4 linked regions of the Homo sapiens genome follow. The protein of the gene in region 1 interacts with the protein of each later gene in a biochemical or structural test. Each region holds a gene or a part of one and is shown in the gene's direction. Other genes may lie near its edges. The genes, in order: CIB1, TERT, ITGA2B and STMN2.

Region 1 (7,951 bases):
AATTCCCATGGCTCAGATTTTTTATACACACCATCAAACTGCCCTCCAGAAAATCATACCTGAGTTCCAGTGCATGAGAGTGCTCAGGGTTTCAAAGATGACCACTTCTTTTGTGGGAAAAGCTTTTCCATGTTCCATAGTGATTCCAATTGGTCATGCATAGAAACATTTGGGTGAGGATGGCACTGATGTGTGGGTAAGTGTCCAGGGCCAACCTTTCAAGGGGGAAATTAGTGCCTGTCTTCATCTTCCCCTGGCTGCCTGGAGCCCTGGACCCAGCACTGTCAGGGAGAGGGGTCTGCCACTGGCCCAGATAGGATGTCAAAAGGAGGCATTACCTTAGTAGAGTCACTTCAGTCCAAGTTTGGGTTCCTTCAGCTCTGCTGCTCCAGAAACTTCATGTTAATAAAACAGAAAGGAAACAAAACATATAAAAAATTACATATCAAAAGTCAAGCTAAGTTTAATGAGTATTGAGGCTTAGTTTGCAAGATGAAAACGTCCTGGAGATTTGCCGCACAACATCGTGAATGTGCTTAACACGACTATACACTTAGAAATGGTTCAGATGGTCAATTTTTTTTTTAAAGACAGAATCTCACTCTGTCAGCCAGGCTGCAGTGCAGTGGCACGATCTTGGCTCACTGCAACCTCCACCACCCAGGTTCAAGTGATTTTCATGCCTCAGCCTCCTGAGTAGCTGGGACTACAGGTGTGTGTCACCACGCCCGGCTAATGTTTGTATTTTTAGGAAAGACCAGGTTTCACCATGTTGGCCAGGCTGGTCTCGAACTCCTGACCTCAGGTGATCCACCTGCGTTGGCCTCCCAAAGTGCTGGGATTACAGGCGTGAGCCACCGCACCTGGCCAAAAATGTTTAAAAGTGAAGCTAATCCTTTGAGCTGGAGCTGCAAGGTAAAAGACAACAACAACAAAAAAGTGAAGCTAAGCATAATTTTGATGATCAAATGTAGTATCTTATTCTCACCTTACTGCAATGTCTGCCTCCCAGACTCAAGCAATCCATCCACCTCAGCCTCCCAAGTAGCTGGGACCACAGGCACTTGCACCAGGCCTGACTAATGTAGTATCTTATTCTAATAAAAGAGAATCTTATCTGACAGGCGAAAAAATTTAAAATGAGATAATAAAAATAATACAAAACCAAAAAAAGGAGAAAAAAAAGAGATAATCTTAGACATTTTTTCAAATAAGATATAAAGATGGCCAACAAGCACATTTGGGATGTTTAACGTCATTAATCAATAAGAAAAGGCAAATCAAAATCACAATGAGGGGCTGGGTGCGGTGGCTCACACCTGTAATCCCTGGACCAGCACATTGGGAGGCTGACGCAGGTGAATCACGAGGTCAAGATACCGAGACCATCCTGGCCAACATGGTGAAACCCTGTGTCTACTAAAAATACAAAAATTAGCTGGGCGTGGTGGTGGGCACACACCTGTAGTCCCAGCTACTTGGGAGGCTGAGGCAGGAGAATCACTTGAACCTGGGAGGTGGAGGTTGTGGTGAACTGAGGTGGTGCCACTGCATTCCAGCCTGGTGACAGAGCAAGACTCCATCTCAAAAAAAAAAAAAAAAAGGGAAAAAAAGAAAATTACAATAAAGTCCGGGCACGGTGGCTCACGCCTGTAATCCCAGCACTCTGGGGGGCCAAGGTGGGTGGATCACGAGGTCAGGAGTTCGAGACCAGCCTGGCCAATATGGTGAAACCCTGTCTCTACTAAAAATACAAAAAAATTAGCCAGGTGTGGTAGTGGGCGTCTGTAATCTCAGCTACTCGGGAGGCTAAGGCAGGAGAATCGCTTGAATCTGGGAGGCAGAGGTTGCAGTGAGCTAAGATCGCACCACTGCACTCCAGCCTGGTGACAGAGTGAGACTCTGTCTCAAAAAAATAAATAAAATAAAAAATAAAAGTATATCAGCAGCTCGGTTTTATCACTGTACCAAGAGTTGATCAGGTACAGGAGGGACAATATGCTAACCAGATTCACCGAGGACTACCAAATGATTCAGACTGCCCATTTAATAATCTACCATGAGAGGCCGGGCGTGGTGGCTCAGCACTTTGGGAGGCTGAGGGAGGCGGATCAAGAGATCAGGAGATCGAGACCATCCTGGCCGACATGGTGAAACCCCGTCTCTACTAAAAAAAAATACAAAAATTAGCTGGGCGTGGTGGTGCACTCCTGTAATCCCAGCTACTCAGGAGGCTGAGGCATGAGAATCAGGTGAACCTGGGAGGCAGAGGTTGCAGTAAGCCAAGATCATACCACTGTACTCCAGCCTGGTGACAGAGTGAGACTCCATCTCACAAATAAAAATAATTTACAATGAGAAATATGCCAAATGGCACAAAAGGTTCTTGCTGGCTGGTCAGTGTACAAAATGAATCAGGAAGCAAAATGAAAACCAAAGGTTGTTCCATGAAGGGTTCAGAGCCAAGTGAAGTGACTGAGAGATCTAGATCACAGCTGGTCACCAGGCACAAAGCTGACTCTCATGTCTTCACTATAAAGAGATACTTATGGCTGGGTGCAGTGGCGCACGCCTGTAATCCTAGCACTTTGGGAGGCCAAGACAGGCGATCACCTGAGGTTGGGAGTTCGAGACAAGCCTGACCAACATGGAGAAACCCCGTCTCTACTAAAAATACAAAACTAGCTGGGTGTGGTGGCACATGCCTGTAATCCGAGCTATTCAGGAGGCTGAGGCAGGAGAACTGCTTGAACTCAGGAGGCGGAGGTTGCGGTGAGCTGAGATCATGCCATTGCACTCCAGCCTGGGCAACAGGAGTGAAACTCTGTCTCAAAAAAAAAGAAGACAGATACTTATTACCATGCAGTCCAGGTATTCGCCTTGGCTTGTAAGAGGCAAACAAGGTCTATTTAGTACAGGAGACATAATGACAGCTTCTTGCTTTTTGCCTAAGCTTTTACTAACAGAAGACTAACTCTTTCTCGGACAGAAAGAGCCTGCTATTAAGAGAAAAATGATCGGCCGGGCACGGTGGGTCACGCCTGTAATCCCAGCACTTTGAGAGGCCGAGGTGGGCGAATCACGAGGTCAGGAGATCCAGACCATCCTGGCTAACAGGGTGAAACCCCGTCTCTACCAAAAATACAAAAAAATTAGCCGGGTGTGGTGGCGGGTGCCTGTAGTCCCAGCTGCTGGGGAGGCTAAGGTAGAAGAATGGCGTGAACCCAGGAGGCGGAGCTTGCAGTGAGCCAAGATCATGCCACTGCACTCCAGCCTAGGCGACACAGCGAGACTCTGTCTCAAAAAAAAAGAGAAAAATGATCAGGTTGGGATGGGCCTATACCCTAGTTATTTTTTTTTATTTTTATTTTTTGAGACAGAGTCTCACTCTGTTGCCCAGGCTGGACTGCAGTGGCACAATCTCCGCTCACTGCAACCTCCAGCTCCCAGGTTTAACCATGTCTGGCTAATTTTTGTATTTTTAGTAGAGATGGGGTTTTGCCATGTTGGCCATGCTGGTCTTGAACTCCTGGCCTCAAATGATCCGCCTGCTTCAGCCTCCCAAAGTGCTGAGATTACAGGCATGAGCCACCGCGCCTGGCCTTGAATATTTCTACAATGATGGAATGTACCTGTTAATACAGTGTGTCTTATCAAACACATGCTGCCAAGGAGAGCACTGGGTATTCTTCCAGTGTAAAGTAGATTCCTAGGCAGTCTAGGGAGTCAGGAAAGGCTTCCCTGAGGATGAGATGGAAGAGGGACTGAGGGCCCAAAGTGGCTGAAAGACAGAGAGCCAATAGGAGGAAGTCCAGTTACAGAGGGCCAGGATTTGGGTTTTTAACCATTTAATGGTTATAAACTGAGACTAACATACTCAGATTTAGACTTTACAAAGATCAGCAAGTATAATGGATTGGAAGGATCAAGAATTAATCCCAGCCTGACCAACACAACCTCCACTTCCTCCTCCCAGCAGTTTGGAATCCTTACCTTTTGCAATAGTATACGTTCATTCATTTATTATGCATTCGATAATATTTACTGAGAGCCTACTATGTGCCAAACATTATCCTAGAGGTTAAGAGGGGACAAGAGCAAAGGGTCAGCAGTCTAGGGGTGAGATGGAGTCAAAAGGACGGCAGGTCAGCTGGAATGATGAGAACAGCAGTGGAGAGCCTTTAAAAGTGCCTTGGACTGGACCGATTACCTTCTAAATGCCGGCGCCCGGAAAAATCACTAACACCCTTTGGACTTACGTATTTCCATCTTTGTAAAATGGGAACCTACCTCGCAAGGGATGTTGCAACAATCGAAGAAAACTATGCACAATGCTTGACATCCAGTGGGTCCTCAGTAAATAGCCTAAGAAGGAAGCAAGGTTATGGTTACTTCTGGAAGAGGTGGCTTGGGGGCTGCGACAGGTGCAGCGATTGCCTGATGATAACATCTAGAAAAGCCCTTGCTGGGCAGAGGGGCAGCCGACGACCCCCGCCACTCAGCGAGTCTCCAGGTTTCCCGGAAACGCTAGCTCCAGTGACTTCTCAGATGCCCCTATGGGACCCCACCCAGGGCTGCCGCCGCCACCACCTACTGCAGCCGAAGCGGATGCACCTCGCGACTTTCCCCGCAGCCGCTGCCGGGGCCACAGCGAGGTCATGACGCCCGTGACGCATACGCAGCCAGCACGCACGCGCGCGGCGTGGCCCGCCCCCCCCTCCCACCCCGGAGGCGGGGCCGTGAGTCCCGGGCTCCGCCCCGGAGCGTCGGGCCCCTCCCCGGGCCCCGCCTCCAGCTCGCCTAGGACCGCTTGGAGCCGGCAGCTCGCCTGCCAAACCCGGCTGGGAACGCCTGGCAGCTTTTAGGAGGGGGCGGGCCCGGGGGTGGTGGCCCCAGGAGCGGTTGCCGCGGGGACCGGGCAGTGACGCGGCCCAAGGGCGGAAGTGAGAAAGTTGTCTGCGTCTCGAGGCGAGTTGGCGGAGCTGTGCGCGCGGCGGGGCGATGGGGGGCTCGGGCAGTCGCCTGTCCAAGGAGCTGCTGGCCGAGTACCAGGTGCGCGGGACGCCTGGCCCTGGGGAGCTCGCGTGCGGGCCTCTTCTCGGGAGCAGGGTCCGGGAGCTGGCTGCGGGGCGGCCGCGGCCTCCCAGCGGTCCGCTAATCCCCGCTCTGGCTTTGCCTTCCAGGACTTGACGTTCCTGACGAAGCAGGAGATCCTCCTGTAAGTGCTGCCTTGAACCCTGCCTCCGACCCCGGGATCCTCTAGAGACAGCTTCGGGGGCGCTGTCCCGAGGGAGGGGCGGGGGCTGGCCTGAGGTCTGCAGAGGAGCGGGAGCTGGAGGCCGGGAGACCTAGCCCGGGCTGCGCCCTCCTCCCGGCACGCCCTCCCCGCCCTCGCCTGAGGCCCCAGCGTGGCACCGCGGAGCCACCTTACAGCCTCCAGGAAAAGTTAGGCGCTCTTTGACCCTGGGCTCCACTAGCTTCAGCACTGCCGAACTTCCTGCCCCAGTCCGGCAGGGGCCGACCTTGCCCAGTGGCTAAACCACAGAAGCCTTGGGGAGCCCGGCTCCTTCTCCCAACTTTACCTGAATAATACAGTAACCGTTATCGCTTTCTGAGCACTCACCATGTGCCAGGGACTGTGCTAAATGGTTGCCTGCGTTACCTAATTTAATCTTTAGGAGAGAGGTACTGGACAATGAAACAGGTTCAGAAAGGTTTGGTAACTGCTTAAGACAACACTCTGAGTAAGTAGATTTGAACTTGGGCTGGAAGCCCTTTTGCCGGATTTATGCAGGCCAGGTTCCTGTGGCAAAGATAAGCTCATGGGAAGGAGGTGGAGGCCGAGGAGGACAGTTCAGTGTGGTTGCTAAAAAGGAGGCTTTGAGGGTAAGAGATCCCTGGAGTGAAGGTGAGAATGAGATTTTTGGTTTTGCTCTTTTCTCCGTTTTTTTTTTTTTGAGACAGCGTCTCGCTCTGTCGCCCAGGCTGGAGTGCTGGGGCACGATCTTGGCTCACTGCAGGCTCTGCCTCCGGGTTCAAGTGATTCTCCTGCCTCCGGGTTCAAGTGATTCTCCTGCCTCAGCCTCCTGAGTAGCTGGGATTATAGGCACCCGCCACCATGCCCGGCTAATTTTTGTATTTTTAGTAGAGAAGGGGTTCACCATGTTGCTCAGACTGGTCTCAGACGCCTGACCTCCAAAGCTCCGCCCGCCTTGGCCTCCCAAAGTGCTGGGATTACAGGTGTGAGCCACCGTGCCTGGCCAATTCTTTAGGGCCAACTTCTGGCTCCTTTCCCAACTTCTTCATCCCTTGGGGATCTCTAGAATCAGTGCCAAGCACATAGTAAATGCTCAGTAAATACTCATTGCAAGAATAGACTCCTAGGCTGTACTGCCTTGTGACATGTCCTTTTGCTTACCGTTGCCTGATGACTCGGAAGTTCTGTGTACGTGGTTTTAGCTCCTCACCTGGTTGACAATGAGCAGCAGGCAAGGAGTGGGAATGAACACACAGGGAGACCGATCGCTGAGAACACCGACAGTTCCCCTCTCTCTACCAGAGCCCACAGGCGGTTTTGTGAGCTGCTTCCCCAGGAGCAGCGGAGCGTGGAGTCGTCACTTCGGGCACAAGTGCCCTTCGAGCAGATTCTCAGCCTTCCAGAGCTCAAGGTGCAAGCGCTCCCCTCCTTTGACACCTCTCCCACCACTCCCTCCCTGCTAGACCCCCTAACTCCATCTGCCACTAGCTTTGGGATCATGGGGTCACTGGTCCCCACTCTGGTCATTTTTCTGCTTAGTTCTGATTTTCTAGGGGCAAGGACTTTACCAAAATCACCTGGCAGAATTATCTAGAATGGTGCTTTTCAAATGGGGATTCTAGAACATAATCTTGGAAGTTCAAAGAAGTTTTGTCCCTTAAGAGGAGTTGAGGTACCTCATTAGAGTTTGAGGAACCGTGTTCTAGAGGCTGATTGCCACTCCGTAAGGCTGCTGCAAAATTTCTGTGCAAAGGGCCTGGCCCGGTGCCTGTAACACAATAGCTGTTCAAGTAAATATTTGTGTTTTAAAATAACCAGCCCATCTCGTTCCCTTTGTTTAGGATGACTTCTTCTTCCCTCTCTGCCCACACTTACGTTGTATGTGACCTGCCTTTGGGTTAAACACTTGACTCCCAGGAAGCCATCTCAGTCCCTTCCCCAGCTGGGTCAGTTTGCTTTCCTGTGCCCCCACTGCCCTCCATGTTGGCCCCAAAGCACTGACTGTTCACCCCCACGAGGCTGAGCTCGCTGGTGCTGGTCCTGTGACCTGCTCTCTCAAGTTTCTGGTAGGCTTTAATGAGCGTGTGACCTGGGCCACGTCCTGTGGCGTTTGTTCTCCTAGGCCAACCCCTTCAAGGAGCGAATCTGCAGGGTCTTCTCCACATCCCCAGCCAAAGACAGCCTTAGCTTTGAGGACTTCCTGGATCTCCTCAGTGTGTTCAGTGACACAGCCACGCCAGACATCAAGTCCCATTATGCCTTCCGCATCTTTGGTGAGAACCAGGAGCAGCCCGGCAGGACACCACCCCTTCCCACGTGGGCTTTGTGGTGGCCCTGCTTGGGAAATGGGCGCCGTTTGGGGAACCTCAGAGCCCCTCCCAACCGTGTCTTTTGGCTTCCTGTGTCTGCTCTCTAGACTTTGATGATGACGGAACCTTGAACAGAGAAGACCTGAGCCGGCTGGTGAACTGCCTCACGGGAGAGGGCGAGGACACACGGCTTAGTGCGTCTGAGATGAAGCAGCTCATCGACAACGTGAGCAGCTGAGCAGGCCTGGGAGCGGGAGGGAGCAGTTGGGGCTCTGGCCTGAAACTCTCCCTTTCCCAGATCCTGGAGGAGTCTGACATTGACAGGGATGGAACCATCAACCTCTCTGAGTTCCAGCACGTCATCTCCCGTTCTCCAGACTTTGCC
Region 2 (7,030 bases), on another chromosome or scaffold:
TGTGGTGTCTGGATGGTGCAGGTCAGGGGTGAGGTCTCCAGGCCCTCGGTGAGCTGGAGGTATGGAGTCCGGATGATGCAGGTCCGGGGTGAGGTCGCCAGGCCCTGCTGTGAGCTGGATGTGTGGTGTCTGGATGGTGCAGGTCTGGGGTGAGGTCACCAGGCCCTGCGGTGAGCTGGGTGTGCGGTGTCTGGATGGTGCAGGTCTGGAGTGAGGTCGCCAGACGGTGCCAGACCGTGCGGTGAGCTGGATATGCGGTGTCCGGATGGTGCAGGTCTGGGGTGAGGTTGCCAGGCCCTGCTGTGAGTTGGATGTGGGGTGTCCGGATGCTGCAGGTCCGGTGTGAGGTCACCAGGCCCTGCTGTGAGCTGGATGTGTGGTGTCTGGATGGTGCAGGTCTGGGGTGAGGTCGCCAGGCCCTGCTGTGAGCTGGATGTGTGGTGTCTGGATGGTGCAGGTCTGGAGTGAGGTCGCCAGGCCCTCGGTGAGCTGGATGTGCAGTGTCCAGATGGTGCAGGTCCGGGGTGAGGTCGCCAGACCCTGCGGTGAGCTGGATGTGCGGTGTCTGGATGGTGCAGGTCTGGAGTGAGGTCGCCAGGCCCTCGGTGAGCTGGATGTATGGAGTCCGGATGGTGCCGGTCCGGGGTGAGGTCGCCAGACCCTGCTGTGAGCTGGATATGCGGTGTCCGGATGGTGCAGGTCAGGGGTGAGGTCTCCAGGCCCTCGGTGAGCTGGAGGTATGGAGTCCGGATGATGCAGGTCCGGGGTGAGGTCGCCAGGCCCTGCTGTGAGCTGGATGTGCGGCGTCTGGATGGTGCAGGTCTGGGGTGTGGTCGCCAGGCCCTCGGTGAGCTGGAGGTATGGAGTCCGGATGATGCAGGTCCGGGGTGAGGTCGCCAGGCCCTGCTGTGAGCTGGATGTGCGGCGTCTGGATGGTGCAGGTCTGGGGTGTGGTCGCCAGGCCCTCGGTGAGCTGGAGGTATGGAGTCCGGATGATGCAGGTCCGGGGTGAGGTTGCCAGGCCCTGCTGTGAGCTGGATGTGCTGTATCCGGATGGTGCAGGTCCGGGGTGAGGTCGCCAGGCCCTGCTGTGAGCTGGATGTGCTGTATCCGGATGGTGCAGGTCTGGGGTGAGGTCACCAGGCCCTGCGGTGAGCTGGTTGTGCAGTGTCCGGTTGCTGCAGGTCCGGGGTGAGTTCGCCAGGCCCTCGGTGAGCTGGATGTGCGGTGTCCCCGTGTCCGGATGGTGCAGGTCCAGGGTGAGGTCGCTAGGCCCTTGGTGGGCTGGATGTGCCGTGTCCGGATGGTGCAGGTCTGGGGTGAGGTCGCCAGGCCTTTGGTGAGCTGGATGTGCGGTGTCTGCATGGTGCATGTCTGGGGTGAGGTCGCCAGGCCCTTGGTGGGCTGGATGTGTGGTGTCCGGATGGTGCAGGTCCGGCGTGAGGTCGCCAGGCCCTGCTGTGAGCTGGATGTGCGGTGTCTGGATGGTGCAGGTCCGGGGTGAGGTAGCCAAGGCCTTCGGTGAGCTGGATGTGGGGTGTCCGGATGGTGCAGGTCCGGGGTGAGGTCGCCAGGCCCTGCGGTTAGCTGGATATGCGGTGTCCGGATGGTGCAGGTCCGGGGTGAGGTCACCAGGCCCTGCGGTTAGCTGGATGTGCGGTGTCTGGATGGTGCAGGTCCGGGGTGAGGTCGCCAGGCCCTGCTGTGAGCTGGATGTGCTGTATCCAGATGGTGCAGGTCCGGGGTGAGGTCGCCAGGCCCTGCAGTGAGCTGGATGTGCTGTATCCGGATGGTGCAGGTCTGGCGTGAGGTCGCCAGGCCCTGCGGTTAGCTGGATATGCGGTGTCGGATGGTGCAGGTCCGGGGTGAGGTCACCAGGCCCTGCGGTTAGCTGGATGTGTGGTGTCCGGATGGTGCAGGTCTGGGGTGAGGTCGCCAGGCCCTGCTGTGAGCTGGATGTGCTGTATCCGGATGGTGCAGGTCCGGGGTGAGGTCGCCAGGCCCTGCGGTGAGCTGGATGTGCTGTATCCGGATGGTGCAGGTCTGGCGTGAGGTCGCCAGGCCCTGCGGTGAGCTGGATGTGCAGTGTACGGATGGTGCAGGTCCGGAGTGAGGTCGCCAGGCCCTGCGGTGGGCTGTATGTGTGTTGTCTGGATGGTGCAGGTCCGGGGTGAGTTCGCCAGGCCCTGCGGTGAGCTGGATGTGTGGTGTCTGGATGCTGCAGGTCCGGGGTGAGTTCGCCAGGCCCTCGGTGAGCTGGATATGCGGTGTCCCCGTGTCCGAATGGTGCAGGTCCAGGGTGAGGTCGCCAGGCCCTTGGTGGGCTGGATGTGCCGTGTCCGGATGGTGCAGGTCTGGGGTGAGGTCGCCAGGCCCTTGGTGAGCTGGATGTGCGGTGTCCGGATGGTGCAGGTCCGGGGTGAGGTCACCAGGCCCTCGGTGATCTGGATGTGGCATGTCCTTCTCGTTTAAGGGGTTGGCTGTGTTCCGGCCGCAGAGCACCGTCTGCGTGAGGAGATCCTGGCCAAGTTCCTGCACTGGCTGATGAGTGTGTACGTCGTCGAGCTGCTCAGGTCTTTCTTTTATGTCACGGAGACCACGTTTCAAAAGAACAGGCTCTTTTTCTACCGGAAGAGTGTCTGGAGCAAGTTGCAAAGCATTGGAATCAGGTACTGTATCCCCACGCCAGGCCTCTGCTTCTCGAAGTCCTGGAACACCAGCCCGGCCTCAGCATGCGCCTGTCTCCACTTGCCTGTGCTTCCCTGGCTGTGCAGCTCTGGGCTGGGAGCCAGGGGCCCCGTCACAGGCCTGGTCCAAGTGGATTCTGTGCAAGGCTCTGACTGCCTGGAGCTCACGTTCTCTTACTTGTAAAATCAGGAGTTTGTGCCAAGTGGTCTCTAGGGTTTGTAAAGCAGAAGGGATTTAAATTAGATGGAAACACTACCACTAGCCTCCTTGCCTTTCCCTGGGATGTGGGTCTGATTCTCTCTCTCTTTTTTTTTTCTTTTTTGAGATGGAGTCTCACTCTGTTGCCCAGGCTGGAGTGCAGTGGCATAATCTTGGCTCACTGCAACCTCCACCTCCTGGGTTTAAGCGATTCACCAGCCTCAGCCTCCTAAGTAGCTGGGATTACAGGCACCTGCCACCACGCCTGGCTAATTTTTGTACTTTTAGGAGAGACGGGGTTTCACCATGTTGGCCAGGCTGGTCTCGAACTCATGACCTCAGGTGATCCACCCACCTTGGCCTCCCAAAGTGCTGGGTTTACAGGCTAAGCCACCGTGCCCAGCCCCCGATTCTCTTTTAATTCATGCTGTTCTGTATGAATCTTCAATCTATTGGATTTAGGTCATGAGAGGATAAAATCCCACCCACTTGGCGACTCACTGCAGGGAGCACCTGTGCAGGGAGCACCTGGGGATAGGAGAGTTCCACCATGAGCTAACTTCTAGGTGGCTGCATTTGAATGGCTGTGAGATTTTGTCTGCAATGTTCGGCTGATGAGAGTGTGAGATTGTGACAGATTCAAGCTGGATTTGCATCAGTGAGGGACGGGAGCGCTGGTCTGGGAGATGCCAGCCTGGCTGAGCCCAGGCCATGGTATTAGCTTCTCCGTGTCCCGCCCAGGCTGACTGTGGAGGGCTTTAGTCAGAAGATCAGGGCTTCCCCAGCTCCCCTGCACACTCGAGTCCCTGGGGGGCCTTGTGACACCCCATGCCCCAAATCAGGATGTCTGCAGAGGGAGCTGGCAGCAGACCTCGTCAGAGGTAACACAGCCTCTGGGCTGGGGACCCCGACGTGGTGCTGGGGCCATTTCCTTGCATCTGGGGGAGGGTCAGGGCTTTCCCTGTGGGAACAAGTTAATACACAATGCACCTTACTTAGACTTTACACGTATTTAATGGTGTGCGACCCAACATGGTCATTTGACCAGTATTTTGGAAAGAATTTAATTGGGGTGACCGGAAGGAGCAGACAGACGTGGTGGTCCCCAAGATGCTCCTTGTCACTACTGGGACTGTTGTTCTGCCTGGGGGGCCTTGGAGGCCCCTCCTCCCTGGACAGGGTACCGTGCCTTTTCTACTCTGCTGGGCCTGCGGCCTGCGGTCAGGGCACCAGCTCCGGAGCACCCGCGGCCCCAGTGTCCACGGAGTGCCAGGCTGTCAGCCACAGATGCCCAGGTCCAGGTGTGGCCGCTCCAGCCCCCGTGCCCCCATGGGTGGTTTTGGGGGAAAAGGCCAAAGGGCAGAGGTGTCAGGAGACTGGTGGGCTCATGAGAGCTGATTCTGCTCCTTGGCTGAGCTGCCCTGAGCAGCCTCTCCCGCCCTCTCCATCTGAAGGGATGTGGCTCTTTCTACCTGGGGGTCCTGCCTGGGGCCAGCCTTGGGCTACCCCAGTGGCTGTACCAGAGGGACAGGCATCCTGTGTGGAGGGGCATGGGTTCACGTGGCCCCAGATGCAGCCTGGGACCAGGCTCCCTGGTGCTGATGGTGGGACAGTCACCCTGGGGGTTGACCGCCGGACTGGGCGTCCCCAGGGTTGACTATAGGACCAGGTGTCCAGGTGCCCTGCAAGTAGAGGGGCTCTCAGAGGCGTCTGGCTGGCATGGGTGGACGTGGCCCCGGGCATGGCCTTCAGCGTGTGCTGCCGTGGGTGCCCTGAGCCCTCACTGAGTCGGTGGGGGCTTGTGGCTTCCCGTGAGCTTCCCCCTAGTCTGTTGTCTGGCTGAGCAAGCCTCCTGAGGGGCTCTCTATTGCAGACAGCACTTGAAGAGGGTGCAGCTGCGGGAGCTGTCGGAAGCAGAGGTCAGGCAGCATCGGGAAGCCAGGCCCGCCCTGCTGACGTCCAGACTCCGCTTCATCCCCAAGCCTGACGGGCTGCGGCCGATTGTGAACATGGACTACGTCGTGGGAGCCAGAACGTTCCGCAGAGAAAAGAGGGTGGCTGTGCTTTGGTTTAACTTCCTTTTTAAACAGAAGTGCGTTTGAGCCCCACATTTGGTATCAGCTTAGATGAAGGGCCCGGAGGAGGGGCCACGGGACACAGCCAGGGCCATGGCACGGCGCCAACCCATTTGTGCGCACAGTGAGGTGGCCGAGGTGCCGGTGCCTCCAGAAAAGCAGCGTGGGGGTGTAGGGGGAGCTCCTGGGGCAGGGACAGGCTCTGAGGACCACAAGAAGCAGCCGGGCCAGGGCCTGGATGCAGCACGGCCCGAGGTCCTGGATCCGTGTCCTGCTGTGGTGCGCAGCCTCCGTGCGCTTCCGCTTACGGGGCCCGGGGACCAGGCCACGACTGCCAGGAGCCCACCGGGCTCTGAGGATCCTGGACCTTGCCCCACGGCTCCTGCACCCCACCCCTGTGGCTGCGGTGGCTGCGGTGACCCCGTCATCTGAGGAGAGTGTGGGGTGAGGTGGACAGAGGTGTGGCATGAGGATCCCGTGTGCAACACACATGCGGCCAGGAACCCGTTTCAAACAGGGTCTGAGGAAGCTGGGAGGGGTTCTAGGTCCCGGGTCTGGGTGGCTGGGGACACTGGGGAGGGGCTGCTTCTCCCCTGGGTCCCTATGGTGGGGTGGGCACTTGGCCGGATCCACTTTCCTGACTGTCTCCCATGCTGTCCCCGCCAGGCCGAGCGTCTCACCTCGAGGGTGAAGGCACTGTTCAGCGTGCTCAACTACGAGCGGGCGCGGCGCCCCGGCCTCCTGGGCGCCTCTGTGCTGGGCCTGGACGATATCCACAGGGCCTGGCGCACCTTCGTGCTGCGTGTGCGGGCCCAGGACCCGCCGCCTGAGCTGTACTTTGTCAAGGTGGGTGCCGGGGACCCCCGTGAGCAGCCCTGCTGGACCTTGGGAGTGGCTGCCTGATTGGCACCTCATGTTGGGTGGAGGAGGTACTCCTGGGTGGGCCGCAGGGAGTGCAGGTGACCCTGTCACTGTTGAGGACACACCTGGCACCTAGGGTGGAGGCCTTCAGCCTTTCCTGCAGCACATGGGGCCGACTGTGCACCCTGACTGCCCGGGCTCCTATTCCCAAGGAGGGTCCCACTGGATTCCAGTTTCCGTCAGAGAAGGAACCGCAACGGCTCAGCCACCAGGCCCCGGTGCCTTGCACCCCAGTCCTGAGCCAGGGGTCTCCTGTCCTGAGGCTCAGAGAGGGGACACAGCCCGCCCTGCCCTTGGGGTCTGGAGTGGTGGGGGTCAGAGAGAGAGTGGGGGACACCGCCAGGCCAGGCCCTGAGGGCAGAGGTGATGTCTGAGTTTCTGCGTGGCCACTGTCAGTCTCCTCGCCTCCACTCACACAGGTGGATGTGACGGGCGCGTACGACACCATCCCCCAGGACAGGCTCACGGAGGTCATCGCCAGCATCATCAAACCCCAGAACACGTACTGCGTGCGTCGGTATGCCGTGGTCCAGAAGGCCGCCCATGGGCACGTCCGCAAGGCCTTCAAGAGCCACGTAAGGTTCACGTGTGATAGTCGTGTCCAGGATGTGTGTCTCTGGGATATGAATGTGTCTAGAATGCAGTCGTGTCTGTGATGCGTTTCTGTGGTGGAGGTACTTCCATGATTTACACATCTGTGATATGCGTGTGTGGCACGTGTGTGTCGTGGTGCATGTATCTGTGGCGTGCATATTTGTGGTGTGTGTGTGTGTGGCACGTGTGTGTCCATGGTGTGTGTGCCTGTGGTGTGCATGTGTGTGTGTCTGTGACACGTGCATGTTCATGCTGTGTGCTGCATGTCTGTGATGTGCCTATTTGTGGTGTGTGTGTGTGCATGTGTCCGTGACATATGCGTGTCTATGGCATGGGTGTGTGTGGCCCCTTGGCCTTACTCCTTCCTCCTCCAGGCATGGTCCGCACCATTGTCCTCACGCTCTCGGGTGCTGGTTTGGGGAGCTCCACATTCAGGGTCCTCACTTCTAGCATGGGTGCCCCTGTCCTGTCACAGGGCTGGGCCTTGGAGACTGTAAGCCAGGTTTGAGAGGAGAGTAGGGATGCTGGTGGTACCTTCCTGGACCCCTGGCACC
Region 3 (7,030 bases), on another chromosome or scaffold:
ACCAGTCATTGGTTATGAAATTGGTATTCCTATTTCACATATGGCAGAATTGTGATTTAAACCTAGATCTGCTAGGGTCCTCCTATCAGCACACACACTCCAGCCCCACTTTAGAGGTACCCGCTACCTTCCCTCATTAAAACCAGCTCTCAAGAGGGGATCTGGTAACAGTCTAGGCAGGCATTCCAGGGAGCATGTGAACCGCTGGTTCTTGTTGCGGGTGGAAGGATGGAGGTGTTGTACAGAGTTTAGGTCTTTTTCAGCAAAGATCTCAAACCCCTGGTGTTCAAATCAAACCAAATGGTTATAGTCCCAGCTCTACTCTCAACTCACTGGGTTACTTTAGCCACGTGATTGCCCTCGCTGAGAGTCGGTTTCACTGTCCATAAGATGAAGAAGTACATCACGGTGGTCTGTGAGGTGTCATTGAGGAAAGATGGTCCAGTGCCCCCATGCCACATGGCCTTCCGGGCAGTGCTCCCAGCGCCGGCGCCAGGGCCTGGGATACGCTGGAATCTGCGCGGCGCTCACCCAGCTTTCCTATGCAGAGTGGCCATCGTGGTGGGCGCCCCGCGGACCCTGGGCCCCAGCCAGGAGGAGACGGGCGGCGTGTTCCTGTGCCCCTGGAGGGCCGAGGGCGGCCAGTGCCCCTCGCTGCTCTTTGACCTCCGTGAGTCCCAGGCAAGGAGAGCAAGGTTGGGGTCAGAGGGACGTGGACTGCCGGGCTTCAGCGCCCCACCCCTTCTTGTGCCTTCCAGGTGATGAGACCCGAAATGTAGGCTCCCAAACTTTACAAACCTTCAAGGCCCGCCAAGGACTGGGGGCGTCGGTCGTCAGCTGGAGCGACGTCATTGTGGTGGGCCCCGCGGTACAGGGCACAGGGAACAATCGGGGGCAGGGACACCTGGGGCCAGGAGGAGCCCAAGTCTCGCGCCCGTCCCCACTCCTGTGGCCTTTCTCCAGGCCTGCGCCCCCTGGCAGCACTGGAACGTCCTAGAAAAGACTGAGGAGGCTGAGAAGACGCCCGTAGGTAGCTGCTTTTTGGCTCAGCCAGAGAGCGGCCGCCGCGCCGAGTACTCCCCCTGTCGCGGGAACACCCTGAGCCGCATTTACGTGGAAAATGATTTTAGTAAGCGCCAGCTACGACCTGGCCCCGCCCACTCGCGACGGCTTGGCCCCGCCCCCATCGGATCCCGCCCCCAGCGCCGCAGCCCTTGCTTTGGATCTGGCCTCGCCCCAGGGCCCCGCCGACTCAAGGCCCCGCCCCTGTCCCCCAGCCCTCCTCCGGGCTCGCGCGCGCCTCCCTTCACCCCTGCGCTGACCCCTCCTCCTTGTCTCCTGCAGGCTGGGACAAGCGTTACTGTGAAGCGGGCTTCAGCTCCGTGGTCACTCAGGCGAGTAGGGAGCAAAAGCGCAGTGGGGGCGGCTCCCAAACAGGGCCCCCTCTCACCCTCAGGACTTCCCTTCCAGGCCGGAGAGCTGGTGCTTGGGGCTCCTGGCGGCTATTATTTCTTAGGTACGTGCCCATCCGTACACCTCCCTCCCTTCTCGCGGCCCAAGGAGACCGCTTTGGGCTTCACACCCGCTGTCCCTCCCGCCCTAGGTCTCCTGGCCCAGGCTCCAGTTGCGGATATTTTCTCGAGTTACCGCCCAGGCATCCTTTTGTGGCACGTGTCCTCCCAGAGCCTCTCCTTTGACTCCAGCAACCCAGAGTACTTCGACGGCTACTGGGGTAACACCGCCATTCCAGACTTCCAGCACCCCGAGGGTCACCGCCCACCGCAGACGGTCAGGTCCTGCCCCTGTGGGAGCCTCCATGGCCACCCCTGCCGGCCAACCCACCGCCTAAGCCGCTCCCGCCCTCCGCTCCTGCGGCTTCCCCGCAGACCGCCCACCTCCCATGCGCCCACCGCTCCCTTCCACTGCGGACTCGTAGCGCAGCCTGGGGCAGGGCTTGGCCCCTCGAAGGCCTCCGTTTTTCCATCTGCACAATGCAGGGCTGGGGCTGAGTGGCCTTAATCTCCTCCTTCTTTGCCCTCCGTCCCCTCTGTGCTTCCTCCCCTGGAAAAGACTAATTTGCGCCCTTGTCCTCAGGGTACTCGGTGGCCGTGGGCGAGTTCGACGGGGATCTCAACACTACAGGCAAGAAATCCACTTAGGGCGGGAGTTGGGTAGCCCAGCCCGGGGAGGAGCGCCTTCCTGAAATCTCCCCTATGTAGGGAAATCTTCCTGCACACACATTTTTCCCTGGGTGCAGAACGGGGAGCGGGAAGTGGGTAGGTTCTAAGGCTCTCATTCCCTGAGCCTGGCTCTCCCTATCGCCAGAATATGTCGTCGGTGCCCCCACTTGGAGCTGGACCCTGGGAGCGGTAAGTGCCCCCACCACTGGGCCTCCCGAAGCCCCTTATCCCAGTTCTCAGGCTGACAACTCCTGAGCGCCCCCCACCCCCGCCCCGCCTCCACCAAACCACCCTTTCTCACCTGGAGTGGGAGGTTGCTTTGGGTACAAGAATGATGCTCTCGCCTGCGCTGTCCGTGCAGGTGGAAATTTTGGATTCCTACTACCAGAGGCTGCATCGGCTGCGCGGAGAGCAGGTGGGGGCCAGGTCCCAGTGGGCGTGGCTGGGTGGAGGGGGAACTGAGACTTCAGAATATTTCATGGGAGGTGAGGGCCCATTTCTTAAAGAGGATGCTTGTCCAGCGGCGTGAATGATGGTGCTCCTCATCTTGCAGATGGCGTCGTATTTTGGGCATTCAGTGGCTGTCACTGACGTCAACGGGGATGGGTGAGGAGGGACATGCCCCACCCCTACCCAGTTGGGTCCCAAATTACCAGAGCTGCCCTCTGTCTCCCTTTCCTAGCCCTAGTCTCACGTATCCACTGGAGGAACAGGAGAGCAAGGGTCGAGGAGATTTGGCCCTAGCCCCAATATACCCCTGGTCCAGTCCCATGTAACCACTCATCTGGCCCACAGGAGGCATGATCTGCTGGTGGGCGCTCCACTGTATATGGAGAGCCGGGCAGACCGAAAACTGGCCGAAGTGGGGCGTGTGTATTTGTTCCTGCAGCCGCGAGGCCCCCACGCGCTGGGTGCCCCCAGCCTCCTGCTGACTGGCACACAGCTCTATGGGCGATTCGGCTCTGCCATCGCACCCCTGGGCGACCTCGACCGGGATGGCTACAATGGTGAGGGAAGAGAGGAGCCCTACTTGCTGCAGAGGGGTTAACAGCCACTCAAAAAGCATGGAGTTGGCCTGAGGGCAGCCAGAACCAGGATGGGTTTTAAGCATATAAGTATGTGGCTTAGACACATGGGGTGCTGAGTGGAGAGCAGATGGGAGAGTTGAAGACTAATTAGGAAGTGTTTGCCTTAATCCAAGCAAGAGACAATGACCACCTGGATGTGGATTTTGGCAGTGGAGTTAGAGATGGGAGTGACTTCACAGATATTTAGGACTCGGATTATTAGGACTTGGTGGGAGACTGGATGTGGGGCCAGGGGAGAGGTTGGAGTTGGGTGCCTGTGATGGCCTCCACTGCCTGGAACTCAGGCCGTGCAGCAGGTGCTGGGGAGAGGCGGGAGATCAGCAGTTCAGCTCTGGACCTGTTGAGCTTGAAGGGCTTGGGTGCTTTAGGCGGAAATATCCAAAGAACAGTTGGGAGTGGCTCTCCCCGCTTCCACAAGAGAGATCTGAATGGGAGACAGGGGTTTGGGGAAAGTGGATGAGGTCCCGGGACCTGTGAAATAAGAGGCCCAGGATAGAGCCCTAGGGAGCAAAAGCATTTAGGTGACTCCTACAGGAGGTAAGTCTGAGAAGGAGACAGAGGAGTGTCCAGAGAGGGAGGAGGGAACCCAGGGGGTCTGATGGCCCGGGACTCAAGGAAGAGCATGCGTTAAAGAGCATGCACAGGAGGAAGTGGGCGCTGCAGCTCCTGCTGCTGCTGCAAGATACAATTAGGTGGGGCTGGAGAAATATTCATGGGCTTTAGCAAGAAGAGGGTGCCAGGCATGGTGGCTCATACCTGTAATCCCAGCTACTTGGGAAATTGAAGCAGGAGAATCTCTTGAACCCGGGAAGTGGAGGTTGCACTGAGCTGAGCTTGCGCCACTACTGCACTCCAGCCTGGGTGACAGAGCAAGACTCCATCTCAACAAAATAAAAAAAAAAATAGAGAAAGAAAGGAAGAAAGAAAAAAGAAGGGGAGGTTATTGGTGACAGTGACATAAATTGATTCAGGCCAAGATAGGGTCAGAAGCCAGAATGCAATGGGGTAAGGTATGAATGGAGATGAAAAATTGGATGCAGCTAATGTAGACAGCTCTTTCAACAGGTTTGTGGTAAAAAGGAATTTGAGGAATAGAAAGGAAAAAAAAAAACATGTTTGACTATAAGAGGAAAAAGAGAAAAGGTGATCACAGAAAAGAGATGAGGGTCAAGGGAAGATTATTTCAATGTGGAAGAACATGTAGTAGGTTGAAAATGATGTTGTGGGGAAATGGGGGGATGAGCCAGCAGAGAGTCCCTGTGATGCCTCAGGGGGTGGGAGGGTGACTGGCCCAGTGTCAGGGTGAAGGAAGGAAACCTCTTCCAGGGTCAAATGGGGAAAGGGAAAAGAAAGTTGGTGTGGGATTATAGCATAACAGTGGGCTGCCTCTCTTCCTGAAGTAAGAGATTACGTCACCTGCTGAAGGAAGTGTGGGGGGTCTGGGAGTTTGATGGAATGGAGAAGGCTAGAAATAGATGCTAGATGGCCAGGCACGGTGGCTCACACCTGGAATCCCAGCACTTTGGGAGGCCGAGGCAGGAGGATCACTGGAGCCTAGGAGTTTGACACCAGCCTGGCCAACATAGGGAGATCTCGTCTCCATAAAAATTTTTAAAAATTAGCTGGGCATGGTGGCTATAGTCTCAACTGCTTGGGAAGCTGAGGTGGGAGGATTGCTTTAGTCCAGAAGGTTGAGGCTGCAGTAAGCCATGGTTGCACCACTGCACTTCAGCCTGAATGACAGTGCAAGACTGTCTTAAAAATAAAAAAATTTTAAAAGGGGCTTGGGCACGGTGGCTCACACCTGTAATCCCAGCACTTTGGGAGCCCAAGGTGGGCAGATCACTTGAGGTCAGGAGTTCGAGATCAGCCTGGCCAATGTGGTGAAACCCCGTCTCTACTGAAAATACAAAAATTAGCCGGGCATGGTGGTAGGCGCCTGTAATCCCAGCTACTGAAGAGGCTGAGGCACAAGAATCACTTTAACGGGGGAGGCAGAGGTTGCAGTGAGCCGAGATCGCACCACTGCACTCCAGCCAGGACAACAGAGCGAGACTCCATCTCAAAAAAAAAAAAATTTAGAAAAGGGAATAATGATGCTTAATTTTCAGGATATATTTTCCTCAATAGACAGTGAGAGTTGTCACTGTTTTTATAACAATCCTACTTGGCAGGTCCCTCTCCCACCTGATTGTTAACTCCTGGAGGGTAGGGCAGTGCCTCCTTCACCCACACTTTGCACCCCTTTCCTAGTCTCCTGGGATGTTCCCAGAGAAGCTCAGGAAAGTTTTACAGTCATCTAGGGAGGCTGAATAACAATCAGCCACTTCCTTTCTGTTACTCCTTCCAGACATTGCAGTGGCTGCCCCCTACGGGGGTCCCAGTGGCCGGGGCCAAGTGCTGGTGTTCCTGGGTCAGAGTGAGGGGCTGAGGTCACGTCCCTCCCAGGTCCTGGACAGCCCCTTCCCCACAGGCTCTGCCTTTGGCTTCTCCCTTCGAGGTGCCGTAGACATCGATGACAACGGATACCCAGGTGCCCTGGACTGCCTCCAGCTAGAAATGCCCAAGAAAGGCCCTTGGACATTCGCTGGAAGTGCCAAGAGACACGGCCAGGGGCTCATGCCTGGCCTGGTGTCCCACTATGGACTGCCAGAGGGGCTGGGTGAAACCTCCAGTGGGGGAGGTGGTGTGGGGAACCCCTGGGAAGATGAGATGAGGATCCCATGCCCTAATCGCCAATTCTGACCCATTCCTCGATGTCTATAGACCTGATCGTGGGAGCTTACGGGGCCAACCAGGTGGCTGTGTACAGGTGAGCACTGGCTCCAGGGGCGGGATGGGGAAGGTCCTGTGCCATCAAGAGGAGGCCAGGCCAGGAGGAGCCACAATGGCAAGCCTACCCCATCACCCTATCCCATCAGAGCTCAGCCAGTGGTGAAGGCCTCTGTCCAGCTACTGGTGCAAGATTCACTGAATCCTGCTGTGAAGAGCTGTGTCCTACCTCAGACCAAGACACCCGTGAGCTGGTGAGGAGGCAGAGGGCATGGGCCTTAAAGGATCTGGGACCTCAGAAAGGCTCCAACCCCTGAGCCCCACTTACGTCTTTGCAGCTTCAACATCCAGATGTGTGTTGGAGCCACTGGGCACAACATTCCTCAGAAGCTATGTGAGTGGCATGAAGGGGGCAGGAGGGAGGTGGGCTTGGACTCCCCCGGAGGCTGGCCAGGGAGGTCCTGACTCTTCTGCTTGCCCTGCCAGCCCTAAATGCCGAGCTGCAGCTGGACCGGCAGAAGCCCCGCCAGGGCCGGCGGGTGCTGCTGCTGGGCTCTCAACAGGCAGGCACCACCCTGAACCTGGATCTGGGCGGAAAGCACAGCCCCATCTGCCACACCACCATGGCCTTCCTTCGAGTACGCCCAGGCAGGGGATTGGCAGGGCTGGGAGAGTAGAACTTACCCACTGGACTTGTTCATCTAGCCCTGGGGCACTGAGCTGGGTGCTGTGAGTCCGGGGGTGGTCAGGACACGGTGCCTACTGGCCAGGAGAAGGTGGGATGTGTATGGTAGCAAGATGGCCTGACTCTTGCCCCTGTCCTAGGATGAGGCAGACTTCCGGGACAAGCTGAGCCCCATTGTGCTCAGCCTCAATGTGTCCCTACCGCCCACGGAGGCTGGAATGGCCCCTGCTGTCGTGCTGCATGGAGACACCCATGTGCAGGAGCAGGTAGGGACAGGCAGGGACAGGCCAGGGAGGTGCAGGACC
Region 4 (3,572 bases), on another chromosome or scaffold:
TAAAATTGTTTTTAATCTCTTTCTCTAGAGTCAACTTCCTGCTTACTCCAACTCTGTATCTTTGAAGGAAGTATAGGGTGGTCTATGCCTTTTTTCTCCCAGAATCTACACTTGAAAAGACACATTTTTCCATGCAACTATAAAATGTTCTCCTCACTCAACATTGAAATTGTATAGCAGTGATTAAGAGAGTGAGCTGTAGAGCCAGGTTCCCTGGGTTTAAATCCCACTTGTTAGTATCATGAAGATGGGCAAGTTACTTACCCTTCCTGTGTTTCAGTTTCTTCATCTGCAAAATGGGGACAATAATAGAATGTCCACTATAAGATTATTGTGAGGATTAAGGGAATTAATACAGGTAAAACGTGTACTGATGCAGGTCTGGTACACATTAAGTGCCTAATAAATATTCAGTATTATGATATAAAGAACCCTATAAGTGTAGACTCCTTGAGATTAATAGAGTTTAACGATAAGTTTTACTTTATAGCTGGTCAAGTTTATTTCTTCTGAACTAAAAGAATCTATAGAGTCTCAATTTCTGGAGCTTCAGAGGGAAGGAGAGAAGCAATGTAAGCAACATTCTACAGAAATATAAATAATACTACTAATAATTAGCATCTTAAAATTTCAATTCAATGAACATTTATTTAGCGCCTATGATATATGCAAGACAGTTTGATTTTAGTCATCTGATGTATAGCCACATACTAAAAAATACTGATTTTAGTCATCTGATGTATAGCCACATACTAAAAAATACTTCCTCCATCAGTTCCCTCCTCAGGAAGTTCAGTTCCCAATCCCAGGCTAGTACCTTGGTTCCTTATGTAAATAAACATCCACCAATTACATGCTATCTGCAAAGCACTCTGCTAGGCCCTGCAAATGGAAAAAAAAATGATAAAACATAGTCCAGGCCCTCAATGAGCTTACAGTCAAATATAATAGAGGAGACAAGAACAGAGAGGCTCATAATACAACTAGAATAAAATGACTGCCGAATAAAAGGAAAGATTTATGCAGGTGTTCAAATGGAAAGTGAGATAAGTTTGCAGGTTAGTCTTTGCAGTCTCATAAAAATCTTTATGGAGAAAAGGACAATGGTCATAGGGCTTAAAGAGTAAGTTTATAATCCTGACCAGTGGAGATGAAAGACTAGCATTGAAAATTGCATGACAAGACAATTCCATTAAACTGAAACATCAAGTGTGTGTAGGAAAAGATGGGGGTTATGACTGGAAACGTCACTTGGACTGCAATTATGAAGGGCCTTGACAAACAGGTCAAGAGTTTAAGAAGCAGTATAGAAAGTCTTCGTCCTGGATCTAGCCCTCCCAGAGTGTCCATCAGGATTATAAAGTCCTTAAAATATTAGTCAAAAGGAACGACATCATTAGAAATGATAGAGAAACAATAATGTGATGTTTTATTACCTTTCTCTGGATTTATACTCTGATCCTAATATTCAAAACTATCTTAATAACATGAACTTTTGGTCATAGTTTTAAACAAAAACAGTGTTAAATATATTTTTTAAAACACAGTAAGTCTTGTAAGATCTTTTCTAACATGACATTTTGCAGGGCCCATATTTTCCTTCTGAAATGGGAAAAATTCATAAAAGTAGACACCAAACTGGGTTACTTCTAGTCAAGCGCATGGTACGCAAAGGACCAGACAAAAAGGGCCTGTGACATTTCTTCTTCCTTTTGTGTTTTTTAGGAGAGGCATGCTGCGGAGGTGCGCAGGAACAAGGAACTCCAGGTTGAACTGTCTGGCTGAAGCAAGGGAGGGTCTGGCACGCCCCACCAATAGTAAATCCCCCTGCCTATATTATAATGGATCATGCGATATCAGGATGGGGAATGTATGACATGGTTTAAAAAGAACTCATTATAAAAAAAAAAAAACAAAAAAAATCAAAAATTAAAAAAAATCAATGCGGTCTCTTTGCAGAATGTTTTGCTTGATGTTTAAAAAATACCTTGGATCTTATTTTGTAAATACTTACATTTTTGTTAAAAAATACAAGTATTGCATTATGCAAGTTATTTCATAATCTTACATGTCCTGTAACAGGCTTTTGATGTTGTGTCTTTCCACTCAAATGAATTTGCTAGGTCTGTTCTTTTTGAAGCTCCCCATGTCTAACTCCATTCCAAAAGAAAAATGAGGTCAGTAGACAGTCTATGGTGCTAGAAACCCACCATTGCCTAATGACCTAGAAGGCTTTGTTGTCTCTGAGCTTGACTAAGACCATACCTAGATCACAGGTATTATGACTCCACATGAACCTTCACATTTGTTCGCTCATAATCTACTTACTGCCTAAAAACTACAAAACCAGGCTAAGAAATACCACCAGTCATAGCATTTACTTCTGCTTCTCCTGGATTATGTGCTACAAATGTGCTTTGGCTTTAGAAAGGGATGGATGAGAAGACAGACCTGAGACCAATCTGGGTAGAAGCAAAAAGTTGAACCTTTTAAAGTGCTGAACACAAATCCAAATTCGAATGGTTCAAGCAGCCGTGAAATCGCTCTTCATAAAGTGGGCTTAATTCTCTAGTTTAAGTTCTTTTGATGGAATGAATTAATTAATGTGTCAGGTGGCTTATTTGTGGATGCCATGATTGATGATGTTCATTTTAAGCTCTTACCTATAGTACAAGTACATGATGCTACTGAATATTTTTCCACTTGGAAACTGTGAGCTGGTTGTTGCATTAAAACACACATACAAACAAAATCAAAAACACTGCGGACTTTCACTCAAGCTGGTCTTTCTTCCCCAGTGTAAGGCAATCCTGCCTACTAACAACACCAACAACAAAACACTCCATCTGTGAAGCTGACGCAGTTAAGGGGGCTAGGCAGGGCATTTGTGCCAACTAAGAATCACCAGATACCCACCATAAGTACCTATCGCAGTTTTGAAGTCGTTTCTCCCCAACTCCCAACTCCTGAAGGTTGCTGCCTGCATATTTACTCTTCATTAGTGCTATTTTCCTGTATGTCATTGTGAGCAAGCTGTGATTAATAAAGAATTGGAGTTCTGTGAACTAATAAAGGTTTGGTCTGTTCTCTTGCCTCTTCATGTGTCTGACCCTGGAGTTCAGATTTTAAAAGGGCAGCCACTGAATTAGACAATCTCACAAGCAAAGAGATAATAAGGAGAGTTTGAAGGAAACCAGTGCCCTGCTGAGTCATTTCCCTTTGGGAACAGCAGGCCGCATCTCTTTTCTCTTGCCCTCTGATGGGCCAACACTGTGGGAGAGGTCTTCAATCTGCTCCCTTTAAAAACATACAGGACTGAACAAGATACCACAAAATGCAGACTGATAATTCTGAGGAAGTGAGCCCTTTTCAAAACATTGAAGGTTCCTGGCATTATCTCAAGTTCTCCCCTGTGGCCCACAGAACGCCTCCCCCAGCCTAGGCCGTCTGTTAAGATGTGATCCCTGACGTACTGCTGAATTTTGTACTGCCAATAAACACACTGCACACATGGGCGCAGCAGGGTCCTGTCAGTGACCCAAATGGATCTTACAGGACCAAAGGAACCACAT

What was found.
Region 2: the proteins of CIB1 (region 1) and TERT form a complex in vitro, tested with the Homo sapiens proteins (2 studies listed by BioGRID).
Region 3: the proteins of CIB1 (region 1) and ITGA2B form a complex in vitro, tested with the Homo sapiens proteins (one study listed by BioGRID).
Region 4: the proteins of CIB1 (region 1) and STMN2 form a complex in vitro, tested with the Homo sapiens proteins (one study listed by IntAct).

The regions. Positions count from the first base shown.
Region 1 is NC_000015.10:90,230,936-90,238,886, reverse strand, and holds the start of CIB1 (calcium and integrin-binding protein 1), read left to right. Parts: upstream 1-4,945; 5' UTR 4,946-5,001; coding exon 5,002-5,052; intron 5,053-5,183; coding exon 5,184-5,218; intron 5,219-6,439; coding exon of another isoform or gene 6,440-6,559; coding exon 6,560-6,668; intron 6,669-7,379; coding exon 7,380-7,530; intron 7,531-7,673; coding exon 7,674-7,792; intron 7,793-7,864; coding exon 7,865-7,951. UniProt on the Homo sapiens protein: Calcium-binding protein that plays a role in the regulation of numerous cellular processes, such as cell differentiation, cell division, cell proliferation, cell migration, thrombosis, angiogenesis, cardiac hypertrophy and apoptosis.
Region 2 is NC_000005.10:1,278,068-1,285,097, reverse strand, and holds part of TERT (telomerase reverse transcriptase), read left to right. Parts: intron 1-2,473; coding exon 2,474-2,669; intron 2,670-4,759; coding exon 4,760-4,940; intron 4,941-5,627; coding exon 5,628-5,807; intron 5,808-6,301; coding exon 6,302-6,457; intron 6,458-7,030. UniProt on the Homo sapiens protein: Telomerase is a ribonucleoprotein enzyme essential for the replication of chromosome termini in most eukaryotes. Active in progenitor and cancer cells. Inactive, or very low activity, in normal somatic cells.
Region 3 is NC_000017.11:44,379,650-44,386,679, reverse strand, and holds part of ITGA2B (integrin alpha-IIb preproprotein), read left to right. Parts: intron 1-548; coding exon 549-670; intron 671-758; coding exon 759-856; intron 857-963; coding exon 964-1,129; intron 1,130-1,344; coding exon 1,345-1,394; intron 1,395-1,470; coding exon 1,471-1,516; intron 1,517-1,603; coding exon 1,604-1,732; intron 1,733-2,094; coding exon 2,095-2,142; intron 2,143-2,325; coding exon 2,326-2,369; intron 2,370-2,541; coding exon 2,542-2,595; intron 2,596-2,733; coding exon 2,734-2,786; intron 2,787-2,975; coding exon 2,976-3,187; intron 3,188-5,618; coding exon 5,619-5,801; intron 5,802-6,034; coding exon 6,035-6,080; intron 6,081-6,189; coding exon 6,190-6,294; intron 6,295-6,378; coding exon 6,379-6,434; intron 6,435-6,526; coding exon 6,527-6,678; intron 6,679-6,865; coding exon 6,866-6,991; intron 6,992-7,030. UniProt on the Homo sapiens protein: Integrin alpha-IIb/beta-3 is a receptor for fibronectin, fibrinogen, plasminogen, prothrombin, thrombospondin and vitronectin. It recognizes the sequence R-G-D in a wide array of ligands.
Region 4 is NC_000008.11:79,663,090-79,666,661, forward strand, and holds the end of STMN2 (stathmin-2), read left to right. Parts: intron 1-490; coding exon of another isoform or gene 491-572; intron 573-1,725; coding exon 1,726-1,785; 3' UTR 1,786-3,069; downstream 3,070-3,572. UniProt on the Homo sapiens protein: Regulator of microtubule stability. When phosphorylated by MAPK8, stabilizes microtubules and consequently controls neurite length in cortical neurons.